Regions from separate parts of the Homo sapiens genome. Here all the other regions are linked to region 1. The links come from fine-mapping of genetic effects on gene expression. A gene starts in region 1. Each other region holds a variant in brackets. All regions are shown on one strand. Distances are between the middles of the regions. Region 1 holds the start of MRPS27 (mitochondrial ribosomal protein S27). Region 2 overlaps MRPS27 (mitochondrial ribosomal protein S27). Region 3 overlaps PTCD2 (pentatricopeptide repeat domain 2). Region 4 overlaps MRPS27 (mitochondrial ribosomal protein S27).

What was found.
Region 2: its variant is fine-mapped to the expression of MRPS27 in fibroblasts (GTEx, PIP above 0.99).
Region 3: its variant is fine-mapped to the expression of MRPS27 in whole blood (TOPMed, PIP above 0.99).
Region 4: its variant is fine-mapped to the expression of MRPS27 in prefrontal cortex (GTEx, PIP above 0.99). The same link has a PIP of 0.9 or more in anterior cingulate cortex, cerebellar hemisphere, cerebellum, cerebral cortex, nucleus accumbens and skeletal muscle.

Annotation. Positions count from the first base shown.
Region 1 is chr5:72,315,828-72,323,933 of GRCh38, reverse strand. It overlaps MRPS27 (mitochondrial ribosomal protein S27), which reads left to right and starts at 3,694. Exons shown (of 11, transcript NM_015084.3): 1 at 3,694-3,785. The coding sequence starts at 3,713. It overlaps PTCD2 (pentatricopeptide repeat domain 2), which reads right to left and starts at 3,561. Exons shown (of 10, transcript NM_024754.5): 1 at 3,425-3,561; 2 at 1,670-1,762. The coding sequence starts at 3,551. RefSeq lists enhancers at 3,363-3,572, 3,633-3,962, 3,561-4,101, 4,102-4,643.
Region 2 is chr5:72,225,010-72,233,115 of GRCh38, reverse strand. MRPS27 (mitochondrial ribosomal protein S27) reads left to right here. Exons shown (of 11, transcript NM_015084.3): 7 at 558-673; 8 at 4,748-4,850; 9 at 6,917-7,059. Among named protein-coding and RNA genes, the nearest start is that of MIR4803, 60 kb to the right of the region's middle. The variant T/C (reference allele first, on the strand shown) is at 3,578.
Region 3 is chr5:72,340,463-72,348,568 of GRCh38, reverse strand. PTCD2 (pentatricopeptide repeat domain 2) reads right to left here. Exons shown (of 10, transcript NM_024754.5): 8 at 5,533-5,607. Among named protein-coding and RNA genes, the nearest start is that of PTCD2, 24 kb to the right of the region's middle. The variant T/C (reference allele first, on the strand shown) is at 3,692.
Region 4 is chr5:72,215,021-72,223,126 of GRCh38, reverse strand. It overlaps MRPS27 (mitochondrial ribosomal protein S27), which reads left to right. Exons shown (of 11, transcript NM_015084.3): 11 at 1,979-3,724. The coding sequence ends at 2,218. Among named protein-coding and RNA genes, the nearest start is that of MIR4803, 50 kb to the right of the region's middle. The variant T/C (reference allele first, on the strand shown) is at 3,338.

The sequences.
Region 1 (8,106 bases):
TGGGTGCAGTGGCTCACGCTTGTACTTTAGGAGACTGAGGCGGGATACTAGCTTGAGCCTGGGAGTTCGAGACCAGCCTCAACACAGTGAGACCATCTCTACAAAAAAAAATTAAAAATTAAAAATTAGGCGGTATGGTGGCACTGTAGTCCTAGTTACTCAGGAGGCTAAAGCAGGATTGCTTGAATCCAAGAGTTTGAGGCTGCAGCGAGCTATGATGGTGCCAACTGCACTCCAGCCTAGGTGACAGAGCGAGACTGTCTCTTAAAAAACAAACCAAAACAAAGAGAATGTTAATGTGTTAATCAGGAGCTCACAAACATCTGGCAGTGAGAGGAAGGAGAGCTGGGTCTATGGTTGAAAAAGTCAGTAGGGACACCAAGAGTTATTAAAAAAAAAAGGAAAGTCTTAGATGTGTTCATAAAGGAGGATCAAGGAGGTATATCCACAACCCCCAGGGACCACTGCTGCATCCACACACAATAAAAGGTATGAAATGCTGGGAAGAACTCTATGTGCAGGAGGGAGAGAATGAATGCACAAGATTTTTCAGGTGCTGAAAGGGAAAAAGACCTAGGGTGGTGTTCTTGTTTGTAGCTTTTTATAACAAAAATTTTCAAACATACCCAAGAAATGAAAGAACAGGATAATAATCCCCCTCACTAAGTGCCATTACCCAGCCTCAATCATTATCAATATTTTGCTAATTATGTTTCCTCTACACTACAATCCTCAAACACACTGGATTTTTTTTCAAAGCAAATCCCAGATTTATCTTTTTTTTGAGACAGGGTCTCACTCTGTTACACAGGTTGGAGTGCAGTGGTGTGATCATGGCTTACTGCACCTTAGACCTCCCAGGCTCAAGCAATCCTCCCACCTCAGTCCCTGGAGTAGCTGTGACTACAGGCATGCACCACCACGCCCAACTAACTTTAAAAAAATTTGTAGAGATGAGGTCTACGCTGCTCAGGCTGATCTCAAACTCCCTGGCTCAAGCAATCCTCCTGCCTTGGCCTCCCAAAGTGCTGGAGTTACAGGCATGAGCCATCATGCCCAGCCAAATCCTAGGTTTGGTAGTCAGGTTTCTCTTGTTTTTTAAGAAATTTTTGATCCTACTGACTTTTCTAGCACAGAGTGAAAAATACCAAATGTATCATCACACATAGTACTGTTTTGTTTCATTTGATTTCATTTATATATAGATATGTTTGTGTGTACTGAGATGCAACATAAAATGCATTTTTCACTGAAGGTTACATCAAAAAGTTTGAAAGCCAATCATCTGAAGTTTTTAAACTTTATTGTGCATATGAATGATCTGGGGCCTTTCTCTCTGCACTTCTATCAACCACCCAATAGATGCTGATGCCGCTGGTCCTCAAACCTCACTTTTAATGGCACAGATTTAGACAAGACCAATCGCAGCACTAGCTTTAATACTTCTCTGGGATCGTAAGAGAAGGAATAAGAGGAGAGCTGTAGACGTTGTAGCAGCAAAGTATGAAATGCAAGATAAATATAAGAGTTCACTATGAAACTAACAATAAATGGTCTCAACTTTTTCTAAGGCATAATAAAGTCACTGAAGGAGACACTGAATAGGGATAAAGACAGAGAAACTTAAATGACAGATAAATGACAGAATTAACAAAATAGATTCTATTACCTTTAGTGCCAGAAAGATTACATGCAACAGCCACTTTCTTTTGTTGAAATTCTTTTAATTTCACCACATTATCTGTAAGTAGGTATCTTTTAGCTAAAAATCAGAGAAAGAAAAAAGTAAAGTCATTTTGACTGTTTTAGAAGTTAGCAAATAACATGAATAGAGCTGGATTACCTCTAACATCTATTATAGATAATCCATTAGACAGGTACAAATATAACTGTACAAACTGTACAAATATAAATCCTGGGAAAAACAATTTCTGAACTACCAGAGAATGCAAATCCTCAGCAAAACAGGTTTTATTTGTGTGTGTGAAAGAAGCTAGTGATTAACCGTAGCTAGTGATAAACCTGTGTGGGGACTGGTTGACAGGAAGTTGGGATTTGAAGTACAAATGGGCATTTGCCATCGGTTAAGGGTATCAAGGGCATTTAAAAAAAAAACTAATAACATTTAAATGCAAAACAGGCATATTTAGTTTTGGTTTATCCAGGGAGAAGCACAGTGTAGTGGAAAAAGCTGCAGCATGACCACTGGAACTCCCAGTTTTGTCCTCTGTGAAATGAGGGGGTTAAGGCCTCTCAGATGTGGACTCAAAATACATTTGAGATACATGGAAATCATTGATCACAGCTTAGTAGATTTGGGAAACATCATCCTTTCTTTAGGATCCTTGGCTGTGCATGAGATAAAACGGACCAAGCGTGGCCGAAGAATCACGCACTAACAGAGTTCTGTGAGCTGCAGTAACAAGGTAACAATAAAAGTTGCTATTTATTTACAGAAAGGCAGTCCAGTGAAGTGGTTAGGAGCAGGTTTCTATTGTTGGGTGTGTTCAAATCCCACCTCTAACAGTTCCCTCTGACTTTGGGCAAATTACTTAACCTTGTTCCTCCTCTGTAAATGGAGAAAAGAATGGTACTTCTCTTGCTGGGTGTTGTCTAGAGAAAAGGAATTAATGTATGTAAACTACATTAAAGTAATGCCTGACAAACATTTTTACTATCACTCACTAGCATCTTCAGATTTAACTCTCTTCATAGAGATGTTAGAGGATAGTTTTGAAAAATGAAGAAACGTGCCGTTAAGTCTTTTAGATTGTTAGCAGAACTGAGACTCCATAAGACCTCTGCTTCCAAACTCTGCAGAAAAGAAAAAGGCCGGGCGCGGTGGCTCACTCCTATAATCCCAGCACTTTGGGAGGCCGAGGCGGGTGGACCACGAGGTCAGGAGTTCGAAACCAGCCTGGCCAACATAGTGAAACCCGTCTCTACTAAAAATACAAAAAATTACCCGGGCGTGGTGGCGCACGCCTGTAGTCCCAACTACTCGGAAAGCTGAGGCAGGAGAATCGCTTGAACCCGGGAGGCGGAGGCTGCAGTGAGCCGAGATCGCGCCACCGCACTCCAGCTTGGGCGACAGAGCAAGACTTCGTCTCAAAAATAAATAAATAAATAAATAAAAGTCACCCAAGGCGGGAGGGATGTTCCTGAAGACGAACGTCGCCCCATCTGAGGGAGCACTACAGCCCCAAGGTCAATACCCCAGCAGTCCTTCGATTTGCAGGCACTGGGGGTATCCACGACCCCCAGTGGTCACCACTGCACCCACGTGCAACTAGAGGGCGAGGGTGCGCTCCAGGCCAGTGAGTGACTTAGGAGCTGTGGCTGCTCCACAGAGATGCTAGCTGGGATCTAACACTCCCTTCTCTCCCATCCCTCCCCTCCTTCCCTAGGCTAAAGCCGCGGATACCTCCGAGAGGGCAGCGGCAGCTGACAGAGCCGGAGCCTCCCACCCCAGGATACACCAAAATCTGCAGCGCCTGCAGGAGAACTCGATTCGAGGGCCGAAATGCAGCAGCCATACTGTCTCGGACCATACCAACTACTGGAACCGGGGCGAGGAGGCGGAGCGTCGGTCCTGTCGTCGAGAGCGACAAAAGGGATTCGTCCAATTCTGGGCGCCCCGAGAGGTCGAGCTGTAACCCCGCCCCTTCCTCTGTCCGTAACCCGTTGGCTGTTCCTTTTGGTACGCTCCAAGATGGCTGCCTCCATAGTGCGGCGCGGGATGCTCCTGGCGCGGCAAGTGGTTCTTCCTCAGCTCTCTCCTGCAGGTTGGCCGGACAGCTTCATTAGGCCCCTGATTATTCTGTTTTTTGGGTGAAGGGAGCGGTGGGCTTTCAAGAGGAGAGGAAACGTTTCTGGAATCTGATTGCTAGGGACGCCATTTGGGGTGTTTGGTAGTGCAGAAGAAGGAGACAAGGTATCTGATCCATTTCCTTCCCTAAAATAACAGTATGTTCCTGTCCAAAGGTACGAAGAGCAGTGGAAGGTTATATAGCATGAGGGAATTTGCGTATGATTCGCCAGATTTATGTGTTGGGGTGGTCGTGCTTTTGCTGACCACGAAAAACCCAAATGTGCGCCGGGCGCGGTGGCCCACGCCTGTGGTCCCAGCACTTTGGGAACGCGAGGCGGGCGGATCGCCAGGAGTTCGAGACCAGCCTGGCCAACAGGGCGAAACCCCATCTCTACTAAAAAATACAAAGAAATTATCTGGGCCTGGTGGCGCGCGCCTGTAATCCCAGCTACTCGGGGGGCTGAGGCAGGATAATCGCTTGAACTCGGGAGGCGGAGGTTGCAGTGAGCAGAGATCGCGCCACTACACTCCAGCCTGGGCAACAGAGCGAGACCCTGTCTCAAAAAAAAAAAAAAAAAAAAAAAAGGAAAAACCTAAATGTGTCCATTCCTGGGGCTGGGACATTTTTCTCCCATCTGAGGTTTCTTTAGAGGGACGTCAGATAAACATTTTTCCCACCACCACACATTTAGCTGGACCCCTGGTCTTCGTGGAAGAATTTTTCAGTATTAATCTCATTTTATCTGATGACCTAGAGCACAACTTTTGATTGACCTTTCTTTGCTATAGTTTTCCACGTGTAGATAATAAATGCTATTAGTTACTTGTAAAATACTTTGATATCTGAACTAAATGGCAGCCCACTCAAAGCCTGCATAGTGGATCTGATAATGAAAACATTGGAAAAAAGTTTTAAAGTATTTATAGAAGCCAAATTTGCAGTGATTCTAACCACATAATCCAGACAGACATATTTGATAAAAATGCAATAATCACACTCGATTTTTCCATTGCCGCTTATCTTCCCTTTCCAACCTACCTCCCATCCTCTATTTTTTTAAAAAGCACGCACTTCTTTAGGAACAGCCATTAAACGTCAATGTGAAACCTCAGAGTTGGCCACCAGTTTTCTGAAGATTAAGTGGCTGACCTGGTGAAAACGTTTAATGTCACACATTAGGCAGTGTTATGCACAACGCTTGACACCTTAGTAAGAATTAGCTGTTGTAGCTATTTTCTGTTTATGTGGTTTCCGTGAACAACTACACACAGAGGGCATTTTGGGAGACCTGTCTTTCCCCACAATCACCTCCCCAGCCTTTTTTTTTTTTTTCGGGTTTCGTTCTTGTTGCCCAGGTTAGAGTGCAATGGCACGATCTCGGCTTACTGCAGCCTCTGCCTCCCGGGTTCAAGTGATTCTCCTGCCTCAGCCTCCCGAGTAGCTGAGATTACAGGCATGCGCCACCACTCCCGGCTAATTTTGTATTTTCAGTAGAGACGGGGTTTCTCCATGTTGGTCAGGCTGGTCTCTAACTCCTGACCTCAGGTGATCCACCCGCCTCTACTTCCCAAGGTGCTGGGATTACGGGCGTGAGCCACTGTGCCCAGCTGGCCCAGCTTTTTAATCTCCCAGTTCAGAACTCTTGAGCAATGATCTAGATATTGTCCTGACTCCAGAATGTAGAAAGGTGATTACTTATGCTAGAATGAAGCATATGCTAGAATGAAGGCATAGAGAATAACAGATAATAAATAGAGAGTAAGCAAGTAGCTGGTATGCGGGAGTACAGTTGGCTTCCTTATCCGAGCATTCTGCATCTGCAGAGTCAACCAACAGCGGATCAAAATACTACAAAACAAAACAAAAACTAACAATAAAAAATAATACAACAGTAAAATAATACAAAGAAAATACAACATGACAACCACTTACATTGCGTTTACATTGTGTTAGGTATTATAAGTAATCTACAAATGACTTAAAGCAGCTTGTCCAACCCTCAGCCCAGGACAGTTTTGAATGTGGCCCAACACAAATTTGTAAACTTAACTAAAATATTAGGAGATTTTTAGCATTTTTTGTTTTGTTTGTTTGCCCATCAGCTATCATTAGTGTTAGTGTAGTTTATGTATGTGTGGCCCAAGACAATTGTTCTTCTTCCAATGTGACCAGGGAAGCCAAAAAAATGGACACCCCAGCTTAAAGTAATGCAGGAGGATGTTTGTGGGTTATTTGCAAATACTGTGCAATTTTATGTAAGAGACTTCTGCATTCTCAGATTTTGGTATTTGAGGGGGTATTCTAGAACCATCCCCCTGGGGCAGGAGAATTGCTTGAACCCTGGAGGCAAAGGTTGCAGTGAGCCAAGATCATGCCACTACACTCCAGCCTGGGCAACAGAGAGATACTCCATCTCAAAAAAATAATAATAATAAATAAAATTAGGCCGGGTGTGGTGGCTCACACCTGTAATCCCAGCACTTTGGGAGGCTGAGGTGGGTGGATCACCTGAGGTCAGGAGTTTGAGACCAGCCTGGCCAACATGGAGAAACCCTGTCTCTATTAAAAATACAAAATTAGGCGTGGTGGCGCATGCCTGAAATCCCAGCTACTCAGGAGGCTGAGGCAGGAGAATCGCTTGAACCTGGAAGGCCTCCGCCTTCCGGTTGCAGTGAGCTGAGATCATGCCATTGCACTCCAGCCTGGGCAACAAGAGCGAAACTCCATTTCCAAAACGAAAAAATAAATGGAAATTAATTTAAATAATTATAGTCTTTTCTTAGTTCTCCTTTTGAAAGCGTCTTTGGAAACCTTATTGTTGCCTCATTATTTAATTTGTAGAACTCAAATTTAGATATATTATTCTAGTAAAGATCTGTGTTCACAGTAAGAGAATGAACTGTGTATAAATTCACACAGATGTGTTTGTATTTGTTTATTTGTTTGAGCTGGAAAGTAGGTAGAGAATAAAAACAGCATTCCAATACTGTGTTTAATCAGCCCCCATGCTATCTAGTTGTGTTGGGCTTTTGGTCTGCTGTGACCTCAGCATAATTATCTGTCATTTTTTCTGTTTGTTTTTTTTTTTTTTTGAGACGGAGTTTCGCTCTTATTGCCCAGGTTGGAATGCAATGGCGTGATCTCGGCTCACCACAACCTCCACCTCCTGGCTTCAAGGGATTCTCTTGCCTCAGCCTCCCAAGTACCTGGGATTACAGGCATGCACCACCACGCCTGGCTAATTTTGTATTTTTAGTAGAGGCAAGGTTTCTCCATGTTGGTCAGGCTCGCCTCGAACTCCCGACCTCAGGTGATCCGCCCACCTCGGCCTCCCAAAGTGCTGGGATTACAGGCATGAGCCACTGCACCTGGCTGTTTTTCTATTTTTTTAAACAGAGTTATTGAGGTATAATTCACATGCCATACAATTCATCCATTTAAAATACACAATTCAGGCCAGGCATGGTGGCTCACGCCTGTAATCCCAGCACTTTGGGAGGCCAAGGCTGGGGGATCTCCTAAGGTAGGAGTTCGAGACCAGCCTGGCTATTATGGTGAAACCCCGTCTCTACTAAAAATACAAAAAATTATCCAAGCATGGTGGCAGGCGCCTGTAATCCCAGCTACTCTGGAGGCTGAGGCAGGAGAATTACCTGAACCTGGGAGGTGGAAATTGCAGTGAGCCAAGATCACACCATTGCACTCCAGCCTGGGCAACGAGCAAAACTCCATCTCAAAAACAAACAAAGAAACAACAAATGCAGTATACAATTCAAAGGTTTTAGTATAAACACAGAGTTCTGGAGCCATCATCACAAGCTATTTTAGGACATTTTCATTATCCCAAAAAGAAATTCCATGCCCATTTGCAATTGCTCCCCATTTCTCCTCTAGCTTTCCTGATCCTCACCTTTAGCCCTTAGCAACCATGAATCTACTTTCTGTCTCTACAGACTTGCCTATTCTGGATTGCTCATATAATGGAATCATATAATATGTGGTCTTTTGTGACTGGCGTCTTTTTTACTTAACATGTTTTCAGGATTCACCCATGTAGTATGTATCAGTACTTCATTTTTTATTGCCAAATACTATTCCATTGTAAGGATAGACCACATTTTGTTTATTCATCAATTGATGGATATTTGGGTTGTTTCCACTTTTTGTCCGTTATGAATAATACTACTGTGAACATTTGTTTACAAATTTTCTGTGGACACAAGTTTTCATTTTTCTTGGTTGTAAACCTAGGAGTGGAATTGCTGGGTGATAGAGTAACTCCATGTTAACATTT
Region 2 (8,106 bases), 91 kb after region 1:
AGATTTAGGGTTTCCTTTAGCATTTTGTCCTCTTCTGCCTTAACAGTGAGAAGGTACCAGAGCAGAGAATAGGGCAGTCAGACCAGCCTGTCTGCTCTGCCTGTCAGGGTGACCTTGAGAATATATGTGTCTCCTTTATGCCTTAGCTGTTCTAGCTGGTAGACATGATGCCTTAAATTTGCATCACAGTTTGAGCCATTTTCTGGTTGAACTGTCCAAAATTCTCTTGAAGTAGGTGAAGCAAATAGTATTTTATCATTATGACGATGATACTGGGAGCCAAGAGAAATGAGTGGTTTATTTAATGTCCTTCAGGACGTTGGTGCAGTAGCACCTGATTTAGTTCGTTCTGGTATGTAAAATAGAAGCTAAAGGCTGAGGAAAAACCTTGTTTGTGGAAGAACTAGGGCCAGAGCCTAAGCCCGCATATTTTACTTCTTAATTCTGCATTTTTTTAAACCATGCCCCACGTTTTAAGAGTGTTTATAGTTAAATAGAGATTTAGTAATATTACCTACAACTAATTTCCTCTCTTTTTTACTTTCATCTTCTGCTAGATGCTTTATCTGTGGTTTTTGAGGTCATGATGCAAGAAGCCTTTGAAGTGCCTTCCACCCAACTTCTCTCCCTCTATGTTTTATTTCATTGCCTGGCAAAGAAGACAGACTTCAGTGTAAGTGATCTTCCCTAAAGCAGTATTAAGAACTTTAGAAAAGGCAAGCAGGGGCTTGCTCTCAAAAGCTGGAAAAAGGTGTCTGCAGCTCTGTGGCCAGGCACAACCAGGAATGTGTGTTTATTGTATACATTTTGGTTACTGGTTTCTAACAAATGGAATTGGAGGTTCTTCCACTTGAGAGAATCTCAAAAGAAAGTCCTCGTGCATATTTTGAAACTTGAGCTAGGCTGAGTGCACCTCAGACATTCAGAAATGGGTCATTGGTAGTCACTGAGAGCTGGACATGGCATGTCAAAGAGGCAGTGAGGCAGCTAACGTTGACCATTACCTGGGATATTAAATACTAATTATTTCATTTGTATCAGTATTTTCCTAAGGTTTCTCTAGGGCAGTTCCGTTTTGGAAAGTCTAGAATATCAAGTTTTGGTTTCAGATCTTAGGTTCGCATGTTTAATCATTGCTTATTGTTGTCCTAAGAATAGCAATAGCAATAACTGATATTTTAAGTAGCACTTACTTTACACCAGGCTGTGTTCTTGTTTTAAATGTATTAATGCATTTAATTCTCACAACAACCCTAGGCAGATAAGGAGACTGGGGCCTAGAGATGTTACAGAGTAACCCCCCAGCTAGTAGGTAACGAAGCCACCTGGTAAAGCCAGTTAGTCTGCCTCTGCCATCTGCCCTTAACCTCAATTGTAAACATCAAAAATCCCAGTTTGGGTAGGAACTGAAGAGGTCATTTAGTCCAGACCACATTCTAAAGAGTAGATGGCATGTTATGCCTTTCTAAGATGAGTGTCATAGTCTTATGATATACCCCACATTCATTATTAATTCATTAAATATACTGTATTGAACACATACAAATTCCATACATTGGCAAGTGCTAGTTATGTACTGGTGAGCAAACATTTTCTGCTTACAATTTAGGAAGAACACAGAGTTTAAACAAAACAATCACAGAGATATAAAACTATGACTATCATGAACACTGCAAAGGAGAAATCTAAGAAAAGACTATATTATAGGGAGTTTTCTCTGTATTTTAAACTTAAATTGGTTAGGAAGGGCTTCCTTAAGGAAATATTTCTTAGGTTACTATTGAAGGATGACTGGTAATTAACTGGCTAAGGAGGGGAAGAACAGTCCAAAAAGAGGAAATTACATGTCCAAATACCCTGTGGCAGAAAACTTAGTGAGCAGAAATGGGCTGGAAGAAGATAGTCAGTGTAGTTACAACAGAAAATGGTAGGGAGGACGTGGGGTGAGAGGGTTGGAGAATGTAGGCCATACTAAGCCATTTTGTGTTCGTTCTAAAAACAGTGAGAAGCCCTTGAAAAGTTAGAAGCAGAGGGCATATAATAATCAAATCTGTGTTTTGATAAGGTCCTTCTGGCTGTACTGTGGATAAGCTATCAGAGCAGGGCAAGGATGGCTATGGTCAGACCATCCGAGAGACTACCATGAATCTCAGCAAGGGATAATGGTAGCATAGAGACCAGGATATGATGCAGTTAGAGAGTAGCCAATGGGCATATTTGGAAGGTAAATAACAAGATGAGGCAGGGAAGCAGGGGTCACATATTCTCTCCTCAGTTTCTGACTCATATGTCTGGATGCAAGGTGTTCCATGTGTTGTTTCCAAAAGGGAACTTTGGGAAAAGACTGGATGTTATGAGAAAAATCATTAATGTGACTCTGAACATGTTGCATTTTGAAATTGAGACAGTCACGAGATTTCACCAAGGAACTGGGGGCTTAATGGAAAGATCTGGACTGGAGATACAATTGTGGAGACTTATACTTCCATGTGTAAATGTTTGCAAATGAGCTAGAAAGCAAAAAGAAGGGAAATCAGGAATGTGTTGGACCACAGAATCCACAGGAAGAGATGGTCTGCTATGTAGAATGCTTCCAAAGGGGTAGGGTAAGATGAGGAATAAAAAAAGTCAATTAAATGCATTAGTGGCACGGGAGGCACTAAATCGTAACCTTTGTTTCCATATGAGTAATGGAGCAGGAAACCAAATTGGAATGGATTGTAGAATGATTAGAGGTATAGACAACTCTTTTAAGATGCCTAGCTATGAAGTGGAGAATAAAGCGGGGAAGTTGGGAGAATGAGGATTTGCTTTGTATTAATGGAAGAGGCAAAGCATAAAATGGAAAAACTTTGAAGGCATTGATGAAACCACACCTGAATTAGTCCATTATAGTGTCTACAATAGAAATTAAAGGCTTGGGCCAGGAGCAGTGGCTCATGCCTGTAATCTTAGTACTTTGAGAGGCCAAGGCAAGAGGATTGCTTAAGGCCAGGAGTTTGAGACCAGGCTAGGCAACATAGCAAGACCTCATCTCTACAAAAATTGAAAATAAAAAAAATATTAACCAGGCATGGTGGCACATGCCTATAGTCCTAGCTACTCAGGAGGCTGAGTTGGGAGGATCCCTTGATCCCATAAGTTTGAGGTTACAGTGAGCTGTGATCACACCACTGCATTCCAGCCTGGGCAATAGGGCAAGACCCTGTCTCCAAAGAGAAAAAAAGAAAAGAAAAGAAACTAAAGGCTTGGAAGATATCTGTTAATTTATGTTGACACATGAATAGCTTCATATAAGCAGCAGTAGTTCCAGCAGCCCCAGACAATGATCAGAAAATTTCTAAGACAGTCATTGGTTTGTTTTCATTCATCTTTTTTGAAGTCCTTTAGAAGTATAACCATCCCAGTCACTGTCACCACCCCTGCTCGACTCCTAACACATCAAAGGTATCTAGTGCTTAGATATTTTAGTGTTCATTTGGCTTTAACCCCTACTACAGCCTGTTACTGTAGCTCATGTTTTTCCCTACAGGGGGAAAAATGTTTGTAAGGCTCCTTATTTATTATTTGTCGGCCC[T/C]ACTTTTCATGCAGTTTTAGGTGGGGAAAATCAAACTTCTTAGTTTTGAAAGTAAAATGACCTGGTTTTTAATTACCAGCTCTTTTATTTACCTGTGCTGCAGAAGTGCTTGGGGGGGGGCGTTGTTTTTCTTCTGAGGTCTTTGCTTTTCTCAAAGACTGGGGAGCAGCCTCAAGAAATGACACTTGTATTGCACAAAGCCTACTTACAGTAAAGAGGTTTGGGTGCCTATGAACATCTGGGGTGCCTCACTTGCCCGTGGTTGTAACTGCAGCCTGCAGACATTATTCATTCTCTGCTTCCTCCCTAATCTCTTGGTGCAGAGACCAGTGCAGGGCAACCTGAGCTTAGTGTTCTATGTTTTGAAGCCAGAGTTAGGGCTCCAGCTCTGTCCACTGTGTACTCATGTGGCACCAAGAAGATCACAGATCCCACTGGGGAGTTGCCAAGGCTCTCCCCTGGCCGCATTGCCAGGAAGTCCTCCAGTCATCGTTGTTACTAGTCTGCAGCAGGTGTAGCAATGCTTGTGTTTTTGCCCTTTGTTTCCCCCATGTCTCTAAAGACTTCATTTTCATTAAAGCGTAATTTTGCACCCTGGGCTGAAAGAAGCGATCACTGTTTCTGACTGCCTAATTTGTTTTTGAGAAGCACAAATCTATCTAAAAGCAATTTAATAGTGGTATTTATTCTAACACTCTGAAGGAGTCTTATCATTGCTAAATTCTTTAAAATTCAAAAGCTTGTTCCATCAGGCCACAGCAGTATGAGTGACTGTGGGGCTGACAGCATGTTGAATCTTGATTGTCTCGAGTGTCGGTTTAAAGTGTACTCTTTATTTGTGTTTTGTTTTGCTTTTCTGATTGTAAAAGAAACGCTTATTCATTGCCAAATTTTTGGAAAATAATAAGATATACAGGGAATAAAACCAAAATTACTCATAATTTCACTGCCCAAAAATCCATTAACATATAGGGTATTTCTTTCCTATATTTTTCTTTGACGTAAGTACCTTTTAATCCCAAAATTAGGATTATAATGTATATATAGCTTTGTTCTTCTTTGTTTACTTAATGCTATAACATGTTCTTTTCCTCATGTCATTGAAAGTCACATTTTTGTATAAAGTACTCATTGCTTAGATGGATCATGATCCAGTATATTCTGTTGCAGTGGGAAGAGGAGAGGAACTTTGGTGCATCCCTTTTGCTTCCAGGCCTAAAACAAAAGAACTCAGTGGGTTTCAGTTCCCAGTTGTATGGCTATGCACTTCTTGGTAAGCTAAATGATCCTTACAAATACTGTTCTTCATGGTTAGAATTGTTGCATTCTTCCAGTTCATAATAAAATTGTAATTTGATTTAAATTTACCAGTGAAATCCAATTAGCCTTCGTTTTTAGACATAAAAATAGACCTTGATGGCCTTACAGTTACTCCATAAGAGAGTAAAGAGGGTTCTTAAAACCTGCCATCACTGGCAAAGCAAGAACTAGTTCTGGTGGATATAGGTAATAATATTCAGTGGTAATCAGTCTGAAGAAGGGATAAAGAAAGGGATGTTCTGGCCCTGTTTAGGGAGACTAGCTAGTAGAATCTTTTCCAGTATTAACAAAGATCTTTCTGTCTCTTTAGATCTAAAGTCCAGAAGGTAAGAAATTAAGAGTTAGAGTTGAACTTGTATCTTTGGTATTGTTTTCAGGTAAGGGAAGATAAACTAAGAGCAGAAGTAGTAGCACTTCAGGAAAAGTGGAGTGGTTCATGGGTACCATGTGATTGCACCAGGAGGTGCAGTGGTGGCTTTCCTCTTGTGCCCTGATTGCATTGAAAATCAGACAGGTTAAGAGGACAAAGCCTTCTGAAGAGTGGCCTCGGAACCTGGGTTGTGTGGAATCTGGGTAAATAAGATTCAACCTAAATGTAACGTCCCGATTTACAGACGTTTATTAAATTTATGTTATTTCATTACTCTCCCATCGTCTCTTAAGTAGTTAGGCATCTCTCAATTATACATTGCTTCTGCTTACCTTTGTTTTTTAAAAATCATAAAGTTATAGCAGTTTGACTGCTTTTGAAGTTGATCTTTGCCAACAGAATGTAGTGTGTTATTCTTGGTGCTGATTCTGATATAATAACTCAGGAACTTCAGAGTTTATTGACTGTCTATCAGACTAACAAAGGAGTTGACCACTCTTTTTAAAAATAATTTTTTCCTTATTTGCCACCTACTTTTGATATTGATTTACATGTATTTTCCTTTGCTTTCAGATCAGCATTCAGGACTGTCATACAGCCTGAATTGGTCAGAAGTGACAGGGCAAAGAATATGTACTTTGTTGTGGTTTGTGAGCAGAGGCCCTGGTTCTTTGTGATAGCAGCCATCAGATCAGAAGCTCTTTGCTCTCATTGTGTCATTTGCCGTGCAGCCTCACTCAGCCCTGATGGAAGCAGCTGCCCAGAATGTAACTGCAGTCCAGCCCCAAGCACCTTAAAGGTCTAAAATTAGCTGTCGCCTGATAAGCTTTGTCTGTTTGTGTCCTACTCTGGCTTTCCCAAATCCTCCTTCCCAGGAAAGATAAAAGAAGGTGGATTTAAGACTGGGCAGCTCAAGGTGACTTTGGTCATTAGTGCAGCCAGGTTCTGTGCCACAGGAATACAGACAGCCATCTCCCTACCAGAAGACCCTGCTGTCTAGCATCCACATCTTGAACTCCAGGTGTGATGGCTTGAGGTACCCAGAGAAACATTCATGTCCAGAGATCCAAAAAGATCATGAGAACTCTGTTATTTTAAAACTGACGAAACTCAAAGGAAAGAAGGGAAAGATGAGGGGTTTTTTTTTTTCATAAGGATTGGGTGTTTTGAAGGATTTCAAAAAATGACAGACATTTCCTAGCAGGGAAAGTTGTCGGATGTTGACAAAATTTTCACAGTGGGAAAGCTGTGAGATTTCTTTTTCTGGGGAAGATTTTGTTCTTGAAACAAAAATTGTATCTCAGTTGACTTGTTTTTTAAGAGTATCCTTACCTAGAGCCATATATGTCAGCCTCTCAATTGCCCTCAGCCCAGTGGTTTATATATACATCCTCAGCCCAAATGAGAAAGAAGAAAACTAAGTTCATGTAATTTTGCATTACAAAATGGATACAGTGAATTTTACCACATTCGTCATTATCCATCTGAAGTGTCACCGAATGAGATGAGTCTGTTGGTACAGATTTAAAATGATCCTTCTCTATTTCTAGTGCTGCCAGGTGAACATTCACTTGGGCCTTCAGGTCCTCAGTCTTAGAAATGGTGGGAAGACATGGCTGAGCATTCTTTATTGTTCTTTTTGGCCACAGGGAAGGTGGAGTTGCAGCAAGGGCTACGGGCTGTGTACCACAACATGCCTCTGATATGGAAACCAGGCTACCTTGACAGAGCCCTTCAAGTGATGGAGAAAGTGGCTGCCTCCCCAGAAGACATAAAGCTGTGTAGAGAAGCGGTATGTTCTTCAGCTCTAAGGCAGTGAGATTTAGCCATCTGTTTCCCATAACCTGAGCTTTAAATTTGTTTTCATTGTCTTTCCACTACCCCTACTTTCTATATGTCTATAGAATAGGTATTTATCAAGTCGAAAAAATGCAAAACCACAAACATTTTCAATGCTCCTGACCAAAGGCACTAGAAAATATGATTAACATTGATTTATAGTTCATTGTCTAGGAAAAAAAAACTATTCCACTGCCTCGTCCCTCACCTCCTTACCAAAAAAAAAAAAATCTCAGTGGGAACTCAAGAGAGGGTAAAATTTCATTTTAAATATGTTTGGTGTTTTTGTAATACCATGTAGTCCTGAGAGGCTACATAGCATCTTTCCCCATAAAAGTCCTCAAGAAATGAATCTGGGGACCAGAGATGGAACCATCTTAAACCATTCTGTGTGAATGTGTGATGCTGATGAGATCTCGGTCAGATGTTTCTTTCAAAGTTCTAAGGTGTTCACTTTACCAGGACGAGAACACTACTCTCCCACCAGCCCCAAAGCTCATGCCTCTTGGTCACCTAGGACCCTTGATGGTATGAGGTTGCTCGAACTCCAGGAGACATGATGCGCCTTACACCCCACAGGCAGCTGCAGTGTCTGCTCCTGTCCAAACAGCTTTTACAGCCAGTGTGAGTCCTGAGAAGGACATTGGTTGTCTTGTTACCATGGCTTAAAGGTCACCGTAGAGCCACATATTTGTTTTTTCTTGACTCTGGTTGCTAGAGTCATCCCTTGGCTTTCATTTCAGTCCTGAGGTGGTCAGGTCTGGTGTCTGTCCTGTCACCTTATACTTATGTCTAGTGAATCATTATGCTCTTTGCCAGACGTTTATAACAAAGGATATACATTTCTCACTATACTTGTTTTAACCCTGCTGTAGTCAGTACTGGTAATTGAAAACACAAAATTATACATAAATCCTTTGCCAGGGAAATATTCCTTCCAATCTCAGCCAGATTTGCATTCTTTGCATTCTAACAGTAGAAAATGAGTTCACATGTCAGC
Region 3 (8,106 bases), 25 kb before region 1:
CATACATGTGTTTTGATGAGATCTGTTAAATCATTGCAGTATGTATCACGTATTAGCTGGGAAAATAGGAAACTGGGCCCTCTGGGTCACACTGGCAACAGGAGCAATTTAATAAAACAATCAAGTCAGGGAGAAAATTTGTTAAGTTCAAATTTCAGTTGACAGTAGCAAAAGATTTTAGCATAAAGCATTAATTTTTAAAGTATATCAGAAAAAAGTTTCATTGATTTCTGTGAATACTGACTAAACAGACACTACTCAGCCTATCTGTCAGTTTCCATCTCTCAATAATTAATAAGCTGCCTTTAAGGATTTCAAGTAGATGAGTCAGCCTTGGAGAAGCTAAGGTCCATGCAGTCATTTTTTAAAATGTGCTCTACTAACAGAGACCTAGAATCTAAAAGATTACTAAACTTGAGAATGGCAACCATATCTTTTTCATCATCCCCGAGGAAGATGACATAGGCTTATATTGCAACATGAGAAATTTGGGTTGAACATTTGAAAGAATTTCCTGAGAATTTTTAAACACTGAAACTATCTTTAAGTTTCCCGACAGTGGGTAATTCTGTGACGCAGTTCAGAGAGGATGATTCATACTCAGTATCACTTCAAAGTTACTTATGGAGTCCTTGCCTGAAACACGCCCATTCCACTGCATCCATAGGCTGACTTTCCTTTCTAGCCCTCAGAGGAAAGGAGCTGTTCCTGCTGCCTGGTGGGCAAGCACACACTTTTTTCATCATGCCCTGCATTGCTCCTCTTATTGGGAATGGACAGCCTCATGCTCAGCAGGCTCATGTTTAGCTCCACCAAAGCACCTTCTCATTTGGGGGAAAAAAAAAAAATCAAATCATTACTAGATTATTTTTGTTGTTGTTGGAGGCAGAGTCTCGCTCTGTTGCCCAGGCTGGAGTGCAATGGTGTGATCTCCACTCACAGCAGCCTCCGCCTCCCAGGTTCAAGCAATCCTCCTGCCTTAGCCTCCCAAGTAAGCCAGGATTACAGGCACACACCACCACGTTCAGCTAATTTTTGTATTTTCAGTAGAGATGGGGTTTCACCATGTTGTCCAGGCTGGTCTTGAACTCCTGACTTCAAATAATCCACCCACCTCAGCCTTCCAAAGTGCTGAGATTACAGGCATGAGCCACCGCACCCAGCCCATTACCAGATTCTTGTAACTGTGAGAGATAGGCCACGATGGAAGGAGATGAGAAATCTAAATCCAGAGGTGGCTTACATGCACTAGTGGGATCATGGTTTTTGACATCCAGTCTTGTGTTCTTTTTATTATTCAAGAGGAGCCACTAATCCCAGTCCTGGATAAAAGAGACGCACCTTTTTCATCTCTGTAGGTCTGGAGTGGCGGGGAAACCCTAGGCTTCGCAGTCAGACAGAGTTGTTGGTGTTAAAACCCTGACTCTGCTATTTATTTAGTTGGGAGAACTAAGGTAATTTACTTACCCTTGAATCTTCATTTTCCACATCTATAATGTGGAGAAAAATTGTTTTGATAGAGTTGTATAACAAATCTAAAGTACCAAGCATGACACCTTAGATAAATTAAAACCTGCTTACCTCACTGTTTGATTTCTTATCACCAATTCTTACTGAAACCCTCAACCTTGCTTCAATTCTAGGAAAAGTGATCAATGATCCAAGTAAAACACTTCTCCCCCTTTTCTCCTTTCTTTCCTTCCTGATGTTATCAGAGACTTGGATAGCTTTAGCTTTAGTGGAAGAGTATCTTGCTAATCCCAGCAGTTCTATTCTGTCCCATCATGATAGATGGGACATCTGAAGGCCATTCTCTCTCTCAGAAGCAATTATATACTGGAATACCAGAGCTGTCCATATCCAGTAGGAAGCAGATAAGTCAGAGACATAGTATGCCTGCTGGAAGACCAGGCTTCCCAGTCTGTTTAGCTTACTGGTATCACTTGCTCAAATGACCTGACCTTCTGGACTCTGGACCTTTGCCAACCTTGGCCTCCCAGACCTGCTTTAGCGTGTGAGCTTTTCAGGCTGACCCACCTGCTCAGACCTGTAGTTTCTGCTTCAGCCCCCAAGATGAACAGGAGCTACCTGCAGCAGGCTAAGACAGGGAGGGCTCTCAGCCGCTTGGATTTCTACACAGCTGCAAGTCCTTCCCTCTCTTTTCTGGTGCTTCCTCTGCCTCACCATTAATGCCTTATAAACTCATTTCTGAGCCCTCATACTTCCCTGCTTTCTTATGGCATTCATCAGTTCATATCAAATCCATTACCAGGTGTATATAGTTGAGTTCATGCCCTCCAAGTTTATGCCCTTTGAAACTAAAATGTCTCTGTCGATATTTTTCTAGTATTTTGTTTCTTCCATTACAAACCCATTTCATTTTTTCAAGTTCTCTGTTATCACTCTCTCCATCTTTCTGGTTCCTTGGGCTCACCTTTCTCTCATGTAAAAGCATTTTGAAAAGTAAAGTTGAGGTCCAATATGAGGAATTCTTATTGCACACTTCTTGCCTGACCTTGTTCTCCAAAATTTACCATAAATACTCATCTAGTCATTCTCTGAAAAGTCACCTGGGCACTGGTGTGGGATGACATTTGAGGATAACTACTATGGGCAGAACTGAAAAGCATTATTATCTTTAAGTATGACTCTTTCAGAAGTTTGGAGTTATGCATAATTCCTATTCACTAGGTTCTAGGATTCAGTACAAATGAATATTCCTTTTAATTTAACTCATGTCAAAAAAATACTATTAGTATTAGCAAATATTCATTGAACAGACTACCTGCCAGGCACTATGCTAACTATTTTATATGCATAATTTATTTTAATCCCCACAACAAAAAGATAGCAACTATTTGTTGCAGGAAGTCAGGAACCCCAAATGGAGGGACTGGCTGAAGCCATGGCAGAAGAAAATAAATTGTGAAGATTTCATGGACATTTATTAGTTCCCCAAATTAATACGTTTATAATTTCTTATGCCTGTCTTTACTGTCTTTACTCTGAACATAAATTGTTAAGATTTCATGGACACTTATCACTTCCCCAATCAATACCCTTGTGATTTCCTATGCCTGTCTTTAATCTCTTAATCCCGTCATCTTCTTAAACTGAGGAGGATGTATGTCGCCTCAGGACCCTGTGATGATTGCATTAACTGCACAAATTGTTTGTAGAGCATGTGTGTTTGAACAATATGAAATGTGGGCACCTTGAAAAAAGAACAGGATAACAGCAATGTTTAGGGAACAAGAGAGATAACCTTGAACTCTTACTGCTGGTGAGCTGGGCGGAACACAGCCATATTTCTCTTCTTTCAAAAGGAAATTGGAGAAATATCACTGAATTCTTTTTCTCAGCAAGGAACATCCCTGAGAAAGAGAATGCATCCCTGAGGGTAGGCCTCTGAAATGGCCACTTCAGGGGGCAGCCTTCTTTTATGGTCGAAGCTGTAGGGATGAAATAAGCCCCAGTCTCCCGTAGCGCTCCCAGGCTTATTAGGACAAGGAAATTCCCACCTAATAAATTTTGGTCAGACCGGTTGTCTGCTCTCAAACCCTGTCTCCTGATAAGATGTTATCAATGACAATGCATGCCCGAAACTTCATTAGCAATTTTAATTTCGCCCTGGTCCTGTGGTCCTGTGATCTCGCCCTGCCTCCATTTACCTTGTGATATTCTACTACCT[T/C]GTGAAGCACGTGATCTCTGTGACCCACACCCTATTCATACACTCCCTCCCCTTTTGAAATCACTAATAAAAACTTACTGGTTTTATGGCTCACGGGGCATCACGGAACCTGCCGACATGTGATGTCTCCCCCGGACACCCAGCTTTAAAATTTCTCTCTTTTGTACTCTGTCCCTTTATTTCTCAGACTGGCCGACACTTAGGGAAAATAGAAAAGAACCTACGTGACTATTGGGGGCAGGTTCCCCCAATAACTATTACTGTTTCAGATCAAAGGAAATTGGGGGGTTTCCAGGGGCAAATTAACCTAAGGACTCAGAGCTAGTAAGAGGTGGTTACAATTCACAGTTCATATTCTTTTTTTTGAGATGGAGTCTTGCTCTGTCGCCAAGGCTGGAGTGTAGTGGCGCAATTTTGGCTCACTGCAACCTCTGCCTCCCAGATTCAAGCAATTCCCCTGCCTCAGCCTCCCGAGTAGCTGGGACCTACAGGCAAGTGCCACCATGCCTGGCTAATTTTTTGTATTTTGGTAGAGATGGGGTTTCGCCATGTTGGCCAAGATGATCTCGATCTCCTGACCTCATGATCCACCTGCCTTGGCTTCCCAAAGTGCTGGGATTACAGGTGTGAGCCACCGTGCCCAGCCACAGTTCATATTCTTTTAAATAGATGCTCCACCAAAACCAATATCCCAACAAATAACACCCTCCACCTCATTCCCTCCAACCCCACAGTCCTGTCCTCCTCTAGAGCACTGCTCAGTAGGTTCCCGCCCTAAGGGCCCCTCACGTTGCTCCTGCCGGCCAACCCGACCCCCTTCATCTACTCATCTTGGAATACTCCATTGATTGTGACTTGTTTTCCTAGTTTGTGTCATGCTAATGCTTACACATTTCCATTTTTCTGAAAATGTTTTCTTCATCTCAACCCTCTGACTGTTTCAGGAGACTATAAGCTCCTGAAAGTTTTTTTCTTTTGCAACTCCCCCCACACAAGTAGACACAGTATACAAGGAGTCTCAATATGGGCAGGCTGAATGGGGGCTATGGTGTCCTTAATAACAAGACAGTCTTTTATAATTGGTCCAGGAAGGTTTTGTGACACACTGCTCAAACTCTGGGAGTAGTAATATGCCTCAAACTTTATTATTAGCGTGAATCTGGTGAATCTGAGATAATTTTTTTTCCTATGCTTTTAGTTTTAGGGATTAAGGTTTTGCATGTCTTGGTGATATGTGTGCAGCCACTTGCTGACCCAGACCACAAGGTCCCAAATAAGTGACCCAGGTGGCCCAGGTAAGTTAATGGGGAAGAGGACCATGGGCATACTGGCAACATAATAAGAATGACAATAGATAACATTTACTGAATGCTTACCACATGTCAGGCACTATTTTGTGTACCATAAGTATATAAGCTCATTAATTGCAACAATGCCATGAGTTAGGTACTACCAATAAGACGCAGTTGGCACATGGGTTTCTCTCAAGGCTTGGTAAAGGGCCTGGAGGATCTGTCTCCATCCCCTCCTCCTCCCTACATCTACAGCTTTCTTAGCCACGTCTCATGTCTTCAGCATCTAGCCATGTCTTATATATGAGCATATCTACCTCTCTCCAACCTGTTTACAAACTCCTGGAAGCGACAGCTGTGTTGACTCTTCTTACAAGGGTGATACTGTAATTTTCAGAGAGGAATTCAATAAATGACTATTGATTTGAATGAAAACCTTGGGAGAGCAAGTCATTGTATACAGCTAAAAAATTTAGGTATAATTTTATTATAATACATTTATTATAATACATTTCAAGGCTTACCTTAAACCATAAAGAAATCACTTACATTTAAATTAATGCAGGCTATGCTTTCTGGATTCATGATTTGAGAAAAAATGGACACAGCTTTTGCCATCTCATTCTAGAAGGAAGAGAAACAAATCATATTCCATATCATAGGAACTAATGTTATTGTAAAAGATCACTTAGAGAGGGCAGTATATTCCTATTAAGGTGACCTCAGGGTTTTGAAGTCCACAAAGATAAAATGTTTCGGAAATCAAAACTAAACATTCCATAAAATTCTCCATCCAGTCGCATATTGTTGAATGTTTTAACAACCTGCCTGAGTCCAGTTTTTAAGATGCAGGCATAAAGTTGGTATTTCCCCTTCTCCTATTGGAATCAGCTTCTAAAAAAATAGGAATGAAGAACAAAGTGCAAAGCCTGTCTTTGACATACATAATTAGAACATAGAAACCTCAAGCCACAGCACAGCTGGAAACACTGCCAGAAACATTGGAAATGGAGGCTGGCAGGGTTCAGGAGAAAGCAGTCAGAGGCAGACAGTGCTCTATATCTCACAAAGAATCTACAACAGTACAGCTCTCAAAGGTAAGGGCACAACCTGAAGTACAAAACCTAAATTCCTATTTACAATGATGAGAACAGAGCGCAGGACTAGTAAAGAGAACTTCCGTGGATCCTGTGGTGGCAGAGATGAGGCTAGTCAAGCGTTTCCATAGGCAAGACATACTCATAGGAAACAGTATGTTCCTAAGACAGCAGCAGCAGAGAAGAGACTGCGTACCAAAAACCACCTCAGTGCCTACTTCTGTTGACTTAAAAGAAATGAGGCCTGTGCATACTTGTAGACAAAACTCTGGGTTATATGAAGAAAAATCCTGCTAGTCTAGAACAGTGCTCTGGTGTCCCGCTCTGTTGTTCTCTCTTTCTCTGACATGAATCTACAAATGACCGGTCTAAAAGAAACACGTTTTTCTTTTATTTTTGAATTTTTATTTTTATTTATTTATTTTATTTTATTATTATTTTTTTTAGACGGAGTCTCGCTCTGTTGCCCAGGCTGGAGTGCAGTGGCATAATCTCAGCTCACTGCAAGCTCAGCCTCCCAGGTTCACGCCATTCTCCTGCCTCAGCCTCCAGAGTAGCTGGGACTACAGGAGCCCGCCACCATGCCTGGATAATTTTTTTTTGTATTTTCAGTAGAGACAGGGTTTTACCGTGTTAGTCAGGATGGTCTCGATCTCCTGACCTCATGATCTGCCCGCCTCAGCCTCCCAAAGTGCTGGGATTACAGGTGTTAGCCACTGCACCTGGCCAGAATTTTTATTTTTTAGAGACAGAGTCTTGCTCTGTCACCCAGGCTGGAGGGTAGTGGTGGAATCATGGCTCACTGCAGCCTCAAACTCCTGGGCACAAGCTATTTTCCTGCCTCAGTCTCCTGAGCAGCAAGGACTACAGGCATGTACTAGGTACTACTGCACCTGTTTTATTTATTTATTTATTTTTTGTAGAGACAGGGTCTCCCTATGTTGTCTTGGCTGGTCTCAAACTCCTGGCCTCAAGTGATCCTCCCCCCTTCCAAAGTGCTGGGATTACACGCAGGAGCCACAGTGTTAGGCCTGAAACTTACACTTTTCAATGATGAATAGTCAAAAAAGAACCACCACATGACACTCATAAAGATGATATTTTTAAAAAGAGGAAAGGAACACAGTAGAACAAAATTAAGAAAATAACTGGTACAGTGGCTCACGCCTGTAATCCCGGCACTTTGGGAGGCTGTGGCGGGCAGATCACTTGAGGTCAGGAGTTCAAGACCAGCCTGGCCAATATGGTGAAACCCTGTCTCTACTAAAATACAAAAAGCAGCTGGGCATGGCCAACATGGTGAAACCCTGTCTCTACTAAAATACAAAAATTTAGCTGGGCACACGCCTACTAAAATACAAAAATTTGGCTGGGCGCATGCCTGTAATTCCAGCTACTCAGGAAGCTGAGGCAGGAGAATCACTTTAACCCAGGAGGCGGAGGTTGCAGTGAGCCGAAATCGTGCCACTCCATTCCAGCTTGGGAGACAGAGTGAGACTCTGTCTCAAAAAAAAAAAAACAGAAAAGAAAAGAAAATAACTGGCCGATGAAGAAACCCTAATTGAAAAATATTTCCATGGATATAGAAGATAGAAATGAGAAAAATGAACAACATCACGTCAATCAAGTGGAAAAAAATCAGGCAGGCGTTAGATTTCTCCACATTCCATACTAGATTTCTCCAATATTCCATACTAGAAGACAGAAAAGCAATGCCTAAAAGTACCTCAAGAAAAGAAAATGTCACCTTGAAATTGTAAATCTGGCCAAACTGTAGTTCAAGTACAAAAACAACAGGCAAATAAAATAATTTAAAATACCAAGAACTCAGGGGATATCATTCCTCCAAAGAATTTACTAAAATACTCACTTCAGCCAACAAAGACAAAACTGGAAAAACAACTAGCACCAAACAACCTATTTAACTATACAAAGGACTCAAAAGTTGGGAGTATGGCTATAGTACAGAGTGTAAATGTTATATGCCTGGACAATGAAGCAATGTTAATACTAATGAAAGAAAGAG
Region 4 (8,106 bases), 100 kb after region 1:
CTAACTCTGTACATCCCAAAATGCTCTGTGATCAGTGTCAGGAAAGAACCGTGTTCAGTGTTTGAACTCTTGGCTTCTTAGCTGCTTTGATTCTTGTCTAGTGCAAAGGGGGAAAAAATGCTGTCAGAATGGGAATTCTTGGTACAGCAAAAAACTTTCCCACTTGTTTTGTGTAACTTGTGTCATTTTGGTACTGATAAGATGTAAACTTTGCTAGATTATTATGTTTAAATATTTTCAGTAATTAGAACCTAATTCCCAGTGTTGTAAGGAGGAGCCTGTTGTATTTTTAGCAGCAATTTCTCCCAGTACTTCTGTAAAGTCATTGCTCAACTTCCCTCTTATAATTTGAAACTGAGAAAGAAAGGTTAATCGATATTCCCAAGGTACCCAGAGAATTGGCAGTATAGCTGGGATGAGAATTTGCATGCCTGCCCCTTCAGGCTCTTTGCTTAATCTTGTGTATTTACAAAGGCTAAAGAAAAAAATCTCCTTAGCCCCATATATTATGATTCATTGCATTCACATTGACCAAGGTTGCCATACCATTCTTAAAAATTAAAACTTCCTTCTCTTGTTTCTTATATACTTTGCCTCAGAGAATAGAAACCTGTGCCTGCATTAAGTTCTCAGCCCTCATTCCTCTACAAATGTATTTTTATGAAAATTTTAAAAAGGCAAGTATTTATTGACTACTAACTACATGTTGGGCACCAGTGCATTTCTCCTCGCAAGAGCTCTGGATGCTAGAGACTACCTTTCTCATGTTAGATGACAGCAAAGCTGAGAAAAACTAGCCCAGAGTGACTGACTTTAGGTTTGAACAAAAGTTTGCCAACTCGTAGTTTAGTCCTCATTCTGGTGTCCCAAGCTGTCTTGTTGGCCTCAAACCCCACATGGAGAGCGTTGTCAGAGAGAGATCATTTTCGTTTTACATTTCCTTTTCTTCCTGTTGCCTGATTTTTATTAGTCAGAGGTCATTTGTTTGGGAGCCATTTTTATATGATTGACTCTCACACTAGGCCTCTGGCCCCTCCTGGAGCCTAGGCACCCTGCCCACCCCCAACCCTGTTAAGCAAGCCTCCTTTCCTGTGCCAATGAGTGGCATTTGTTTGTGGAACATGGGGATGTGTGGTATAAGCTACAGCTGGCCCCGTAAGTGGCCCTCTCTCTAATGAGAGAGTACATCTTAAAGTACTTAAATAGATTAATGTTTTTAATACTTACTTCTCCAGGAGCACAACACCAACCAAACCAAGGTGCCATTTCAGATGGAGCTGTAAGCAGGCAATACATAAAGACTGACCTGCAGTCTTAGAGTTCCTAAGACCCAATGCAGTGGAGCACAGCAGGCAGACGCTTCTAACGGTGCAGGCACTCAGGGGAGCTATTCCTTGAACTGATTTCCGTCTGTTGAGAGGAATGCCAGAAAGGCAAATACTTGTTTCAGTTATTCCGAAGGCACATGTATGGTTGGGCTTGCTCCAGTTATCAGATGCCTCTGCCATTTTGTTTGCATATTAGAATTCTTATTTTTGGTGTTTGCTGCTTGGTTTGGTTAGGTCAGGGTGGAAACATAGATTTGTTAGAGGCTGGCTGTCTTTGTGGTTTAAAACAAGAAATTACACAGGGAGACACAGCATATGGAGTTCCATTTACTGTTTTTGAGTGAAAGGGGAGAAATCACATGTGGTGCATCTTAGCAAAATTGCTGAGCTGAAAAAAATAACCACAGCTAACAGCACCTGAATGAAAGGCAGCATGACCATTTCCCAACAAAATGGTTTTTTTCTACCAGCAAAATGTGTGGTTATTTTGCAGGTGACTTCATTCTGGGCCACTAGAATGAGGACTAAACTACGAGTCAGCAAACTTTTGTTCAAATCTAAAGTCAGTCACTCAGGGCTAGTTTTTCCTCTTTGTATCTTTCTCTCACTTCTCTACCTTTCTTCTCATTTTTCCCATTTGTTTCCAACAGGCCTTACATTCTAAGCTTCAAGCTCTGGGCAAAATTGAGTCAGAAGGTCTTTTAAGTCTGACCACCCAGCTTGTCAAGGAAAAACTCTCCACCTGTGAAGCAGAGGACATCGCCACCTATGAGCAGAATCTGCAGCAGTGGCATCTAGACCTTGTACAGTTGATCCAGAGAGAACAGCAACAGAGGGAGCAAGCGAAGCAGGAGTACCAGGCTCAGAAAGCAGCAAAGGCATCTGCCTAATAGGGTCCCCCAGGGCCCCACCTGTCTCACAAGAACTTCACTCAACCCCGTGCCAGGACTCAGCAGTGGCCTGGACAACAGCCTCAGCTTCCTCTACCCATCTTCTTTTCTTAAAGCAGGCTATGTGCCCTACATGGCAAGGCACCATGACTGCCCATCGAGATGCCAAGAAGGGCTATGGAACTATGCAGGTGGCTAGTGGTCAGACTGAAGTCACCAGCTGAATACCTTAAGGAGGACTCTTGAGGCTCATAATGGAGTTCCTGGGGCACAGGGATTAGTTATGAGCATTAAAGTTCCTAAGACCCAGTGACAGTACTGGGAGAAACCAAGGCTGAAGAGTCAGGTTGAAGCACAGGCTTTTGTTTTTTGTTGTTTTTGTTTTTTGAGACAGAGTCTCATTCTGTCACCCAGGCTGGAGTGCAGTGGCGCAATCTTGGCTCACTGCAACCTCCGACTCCCAGGTTCAAGCAATTCTCCTGCCTCGGCCTCCTTTAGTAGGTGGGATTACAGGTGCATACCACCACACCTTTCTAATTTTTGCATTTTTAGTAGAGATGGGGTTTCACCATGTTGGTCAGGCTGGTCTCAACCTCCTGACCTCAAGTGATCTGCCCGCCTCAGCCTCCCAAAGTGCTGGGATGATAGGCGTGAGCCACCACACCCGGCCAAGCACAGGCTTTTGAATGGTCTCCCTCTCCCCAGCCCAGGTACATGAGGCCAAGGTGAACTGTGCATCCTGAGACCTTGTGTCCCTGAGTCTCCTTTCTGAGTGCAAGCTGCACTGTGAGCTGGCTGTGGGATACTCACACATTCCCACATTCTCCTTTCTGCCACATCTCGCCCTTCTGGACCTGCACTGGGAGAAATTCAGGACAGGAGTGAACTCAAGGCCATGAACTCACTGGATTTCCATTTTTAGGCACCCATAGGGATGTTTTTAGGATGTAAGTTTCTGAGGAGAAAGCTAGCTCTAGCATGAAGCTTTTTTGGATTGGCTTCTCCATCGTGTTGGGGTAACATTTTTTTTCCAATTTTTTTTTTCCCAAAACATCGTCTCAGCTCATTTATCAAGTAGGTAAAATGAGCCTTTTGTGTACACACAGAGGCACATGTGCA[T/C]GCACACACAACTTGTGAACACACATTTCTGTTAAAGAAGTTAGAAAATGAGAGATGGGTTGGGGCTTGAAGTGCATCAGAGGTATGAATGTTGTAAAACTGTCAGGAGATGTAAAATTCCTTTCTGAAGTGTCTCTTCTGTGAAAGGGTTCAGAGCAGATTTTGCTTACTATGTAGTGTTGCCCTTAAGTACAGTGGTGTAATTTTATTCAAGATTGTGCTCTTCTATCAAAAGCCTCTGGAAATAAATGTTCCGGGATCATGTTAGTGTACTCTTTATCTTTGGGGAAAGGGAGGAGGGAGAGGGACTCATTATTGTTACTATGATTTTGAGGAGTGTACTTTAAACCCTCCCCCATTAAACTATGGGATTTATTGTAATAATGATAACTGCCACCACTAATATTTATTAAGGACTTAACTGTAGGCTGAAAACCCAAGCAGCCCTATGAGGGAGGTACCAGTGTCCCCATTTTATGAAACAAAGCAGCTCTCCTGCTGCTCCTCTCCCTGCCTGTGGCCTCCATATAGAACCGCAGTAGTCAGGATCCAACACAGGGCCCTTTAGACTAGCAAAGCTGCTGAATCTTACTTAGGTAGAGGGCCGTGACCAAAAGTCAGTTCCAACATTTTGGTTTACCAACAACAGGAGTTTTTCAGCCACTCTCTCATTACATTAAGAGGAACATTCAACACAAACAAAAGGGCAACTTTTGCCCAGTAAATTAATGACTGTCACAACATGAAGTATCTGGTTAAGGCTTTGGCTCATCGTTTTGCCTTCATTTTTCCTCCCTCTCCAGCCCCAATGTACTTTACTTCTCTTCTTCACCAAAAGAGACCACTTCTGCCACTGTACTGTGGTCCCACAGGAATTTCCATGTTCCCTCCTCCTCAGGATTCCTTCCACACTTGTGCCCCATTTCTCAGGACTCTTGGAGTCTTTCCCCTCCAAATATTCTGCCCTTTCCCCATGTCCTTATCTCCTGAGCTATAGGATACTCTCCTGCCTTCCTTCACAATTGGCTCTTCCCAATACAGTTGTCCTTTGTCCCTTTCCCTGATGTCATCTTCCATATTTCTTCCATGTGGATGGAGAAACTGCTCTTGGTGCCCTGGCCTCTGGAGGTTACCTCAACTGGATCATCTCCCAGTAACAAATTACCTTCTGCAGCTGACCTGCCATAGTCACAGCCAAACCTCCAGCCTCATCACGAATCCGAGATCTTAGATCCTGAAGTCCCCACTCTCCCAGGCTCGTCTCGTACCATGACTGCTGCTGAACCAACTTGCTCTGTAATTTCCTGCCTGCTAATCCTTAGCCTTTACCCCATCACCCAAACTCTTGGTCTCCAGAATCTGCTTCTCTTCCAGTGTGGGCCCCATGGTCAGCCATCCCCATGTTCTCATTAGCATCTTCATTTTCTCTCACTCCCTTTATCTAGGCTCACTTGCCAGCCTTCGACCTACATCCTTGCACCCATCTATTATGGGTAGAATTGTGTTCCCTAAAAAAGGTAAGTTGTATCCCTAATCCCCAGTCCCTTAGAATCTGACCTTAGTTGGAAATAAGTTTGTACTGAGGTAATCAAATATAGAGTGAGATCATCAGGGTCAGCCTGATCCAATTTGGTGTTTTTTTAAAAGGGGAAATTTGCACACACAGACTCACAGAGGGAAGATGAGCATGTGACCGTACAGGCCCAGGAACACCAAGGCTTGCCAGCAAACACCAGAAGTTAGAAGGGGTAAGGACGCTTCTCCCCTAGAGCCGTCAGAGAAAGCTTGGCCCTGCAGACACCTTGATTTCTGAGTTCTAGCCTTCAGAACTGTTATTTTAAGCCACACCATTTTTGGTACTTTGTTACTGCAGCCCTAGGAAACTGATAACACCACCATTCATTTTCTCTTTGGTTCTGACTTACTAAGTGTAGATATATAAAGTCATAATATTAGGCTGATTAGATTCTTCTACAAAATTATGGCTGTTCTCTTCAACTCAATAGTCCTTCCTTTAATTGACTCTCATTTTTGCTTCCATAGCTTTTCTGTTCTGCGTTAGCTCGAAGCCCTGCCCTCAGAACTACAAGCAGATGTTCTCTCCATCATCCTTCCTACTTTCAAATAATAGGTATCCCCTCCCTCCTTTCAAAGCTTAGGCTCTTCATTTGTGACCTTGGCCCATACCTGCCCACCTGTTCTACACATTCAAGCATTCCCTTTCCGTCTTATAGCATCTCTGTTGATTTCTTCTTCTAAGTCTACAGTCTTATTCAAGACCTTATTCAACACTTTTTAACAGCAAAAAATCCTTTACCCTGCCATCAGTCAAGCTGTCATGCTATGTCTCCTTCCTTATGTCTCCAAACTTCTTGAAAGGGTATCTACACTTACTGGCTCATTGTTCATTCATTAGAGGCTGAGAATTTGGCTTATAGCTTTACCACTCTGCTGCACAACATGGTCATCAACTACAGTGATCTTTTTTTTTTTTTTTCCTTTTAAATGCTCTGCTCCATTTGGTACCACTGACCACCCCTTATAAGCTTGCTGTCTGCAGCAGACTTACTGTCTGTTCCAGCACTGCTTTCGCAAGCTCTCAAGTGTTCGGTGTATACTGTGTACAAGGCACTATACAAGTGCTATGGAGTTTACAAGGATGAATAAACTATAGATTTTACCCTCAAATAACTTAGATTCTAGTGAGGCTGGCACATCCACACCCGTCAATACACAGCTGAAAGGTGTCGTTAGACAAACAGTTAATGTATGTGGGAGTTCACAGGAAGATCACTTTAAGCCCAGTGATGGGAAAAACTCTAATGAAGGGAATTAATTGCCTGCTTTGTGCATTAATTAGTCACATATGAGTGCCTCAAGCTGCCCTGGGGTCCTCTTTCCACAGAGGCTTGTGTGATGTGTTCATGAGAAAATACTTTAAATTAAGCTAAAATGAACAATTCAGATTAAACTTGTTTTGGCCCACATCCCATACTTACCTTGGCCATAAAAAGGAAAAAAAAGCAAGGCGGTGGAAAGAAGAAAAGAAAGAAAAATGATAAGGTATTATCCTCCCCTCAGTGCTGTGTTGCCTTGGCACCCAGCCTTGCATCCTGTTTTCCGACCTTCTCGTTGGCTGTGGAATCAGGTAGGTGTGTGAGAAGATTGGTTTAGATTCTACAAGAAGTAGTCAGAGGCCTTGAAAATAAGTTGATTATACCACAGTGGCTCACACCTGTAATCCCAGTACTTTGGGAGGCCGGGCCAGAGGATCACTTGAGGTCAGGAGCTCGAGACCAGCCCGGCTAACATAGCAAAACTCTGTCTCTACTAAAAAATACAAAAATTAGCTGGGTGTGGTGGTTGGCACCTGTAATCCCAGCTATTCAGGAGGCTGAGGCAGGAGAATCGATTGAACCTGGGAGGCAGAGGTTGCAGTGAGCCAAGATTGAGCCAATGCACTCCAGCCTGGGCAACAGAGCGAGACCAAAAAAGTTGATTAAAACCTTTTTTCACACTGAAAACAATTAGTTTTGCCATTCTTTGTTGTCTTTACTTTTGTGCATCTTCCCTGAAAATATACTGCAGCATTCTACTTTTTTCTTTTTGCTGCAGGTATCTGATGAGCTTTGGGAAACTCTCTTATTTTAACCACTGAGGAAAGGAAAAGCAGCTGCTGTGGTGGAACAGAGAACTTAGAATTAGGTATGAAAAACATTTCTAGAAGCTCATTGTGTCACTTAGGCCCCCCAGGAAGCAGATCAGCATCAGAGTCAGAGGTAACAGTGAAAGCAGTTTTGGGGGGATAAAGCCTGTGAAAAATGAAAGGAGGTGGAATTGGGATTGGGTGAGGAAAGCCTTCAGGTGGAGGTCCTACATCTGCAAAAGGAAAGGAGGGAGGAAGCACCACCGCCTAGCCTCTATTGCTTGAGGGGGGAGATTTTCAACACCCATCATCCCTATTGCCAACAACACCAAGCATAACCTCCTTTTCTATTGTGAGTTCTAGTCTGCTACCAAACCTGGTGACACAGGTGCCTGCTCACCAGTGCCCTTCCCCAGTGCATTCCCAATGGCCTCGATGAGCGGCGTGCCACCTGGCCCTCGAGGGAACATAGTTCTCTGCTGGGTCTTCTGGCTTCCTGTGATATATGTATCCACTCCAGGAGGCTACCCTGAGACTTGTAATCCTTTTCTCCTGGATCTGCCAGGTCAATTCGGGTATTTCAGTGGTTCTCAGTTCAGGCTATCCCTTTCTCCAGGCTTTTTTTATGAGCCATTGTTGCAGCAAGTCTGCAACACCCCCTGGAGTGTTAAACCCCTTAAGCATTTTATGGATTCTGAATTAATTATTTAGAACTAATTGGTGAGATTGGCCCTAGACTTTAAACTCCATGAAGACAGGCACTCTGTGTGTCTTGTTCATGGTTGTGGCCCAACACACAGAACAGGCATTACCATGAGGAGGGGGCTTATAAACATTTATTGAATGAATTATTTTTTATTAGGTTAAAAGGAAAGTCCTCCAACTGAGGTATAATTCCCAGCAGAAATTCTGAGATGCTAGAAGCCGTATGTCCTAAGCTGAGGTAGTTTAATGCCAAAGAAAGCCTCTTTGGATTTCTACGAAGTGTAGTGTAAGCCAAAATTGACACCAGGAGGAAGGTTTGTGGGGAAAAAATAGGGGGGTGAGCATGGTGTATCATATCAGAATTCTCTTCTACATATGTATATCACACCTGCCTCAAAGCAGGGAGTTAGGAAGTGAT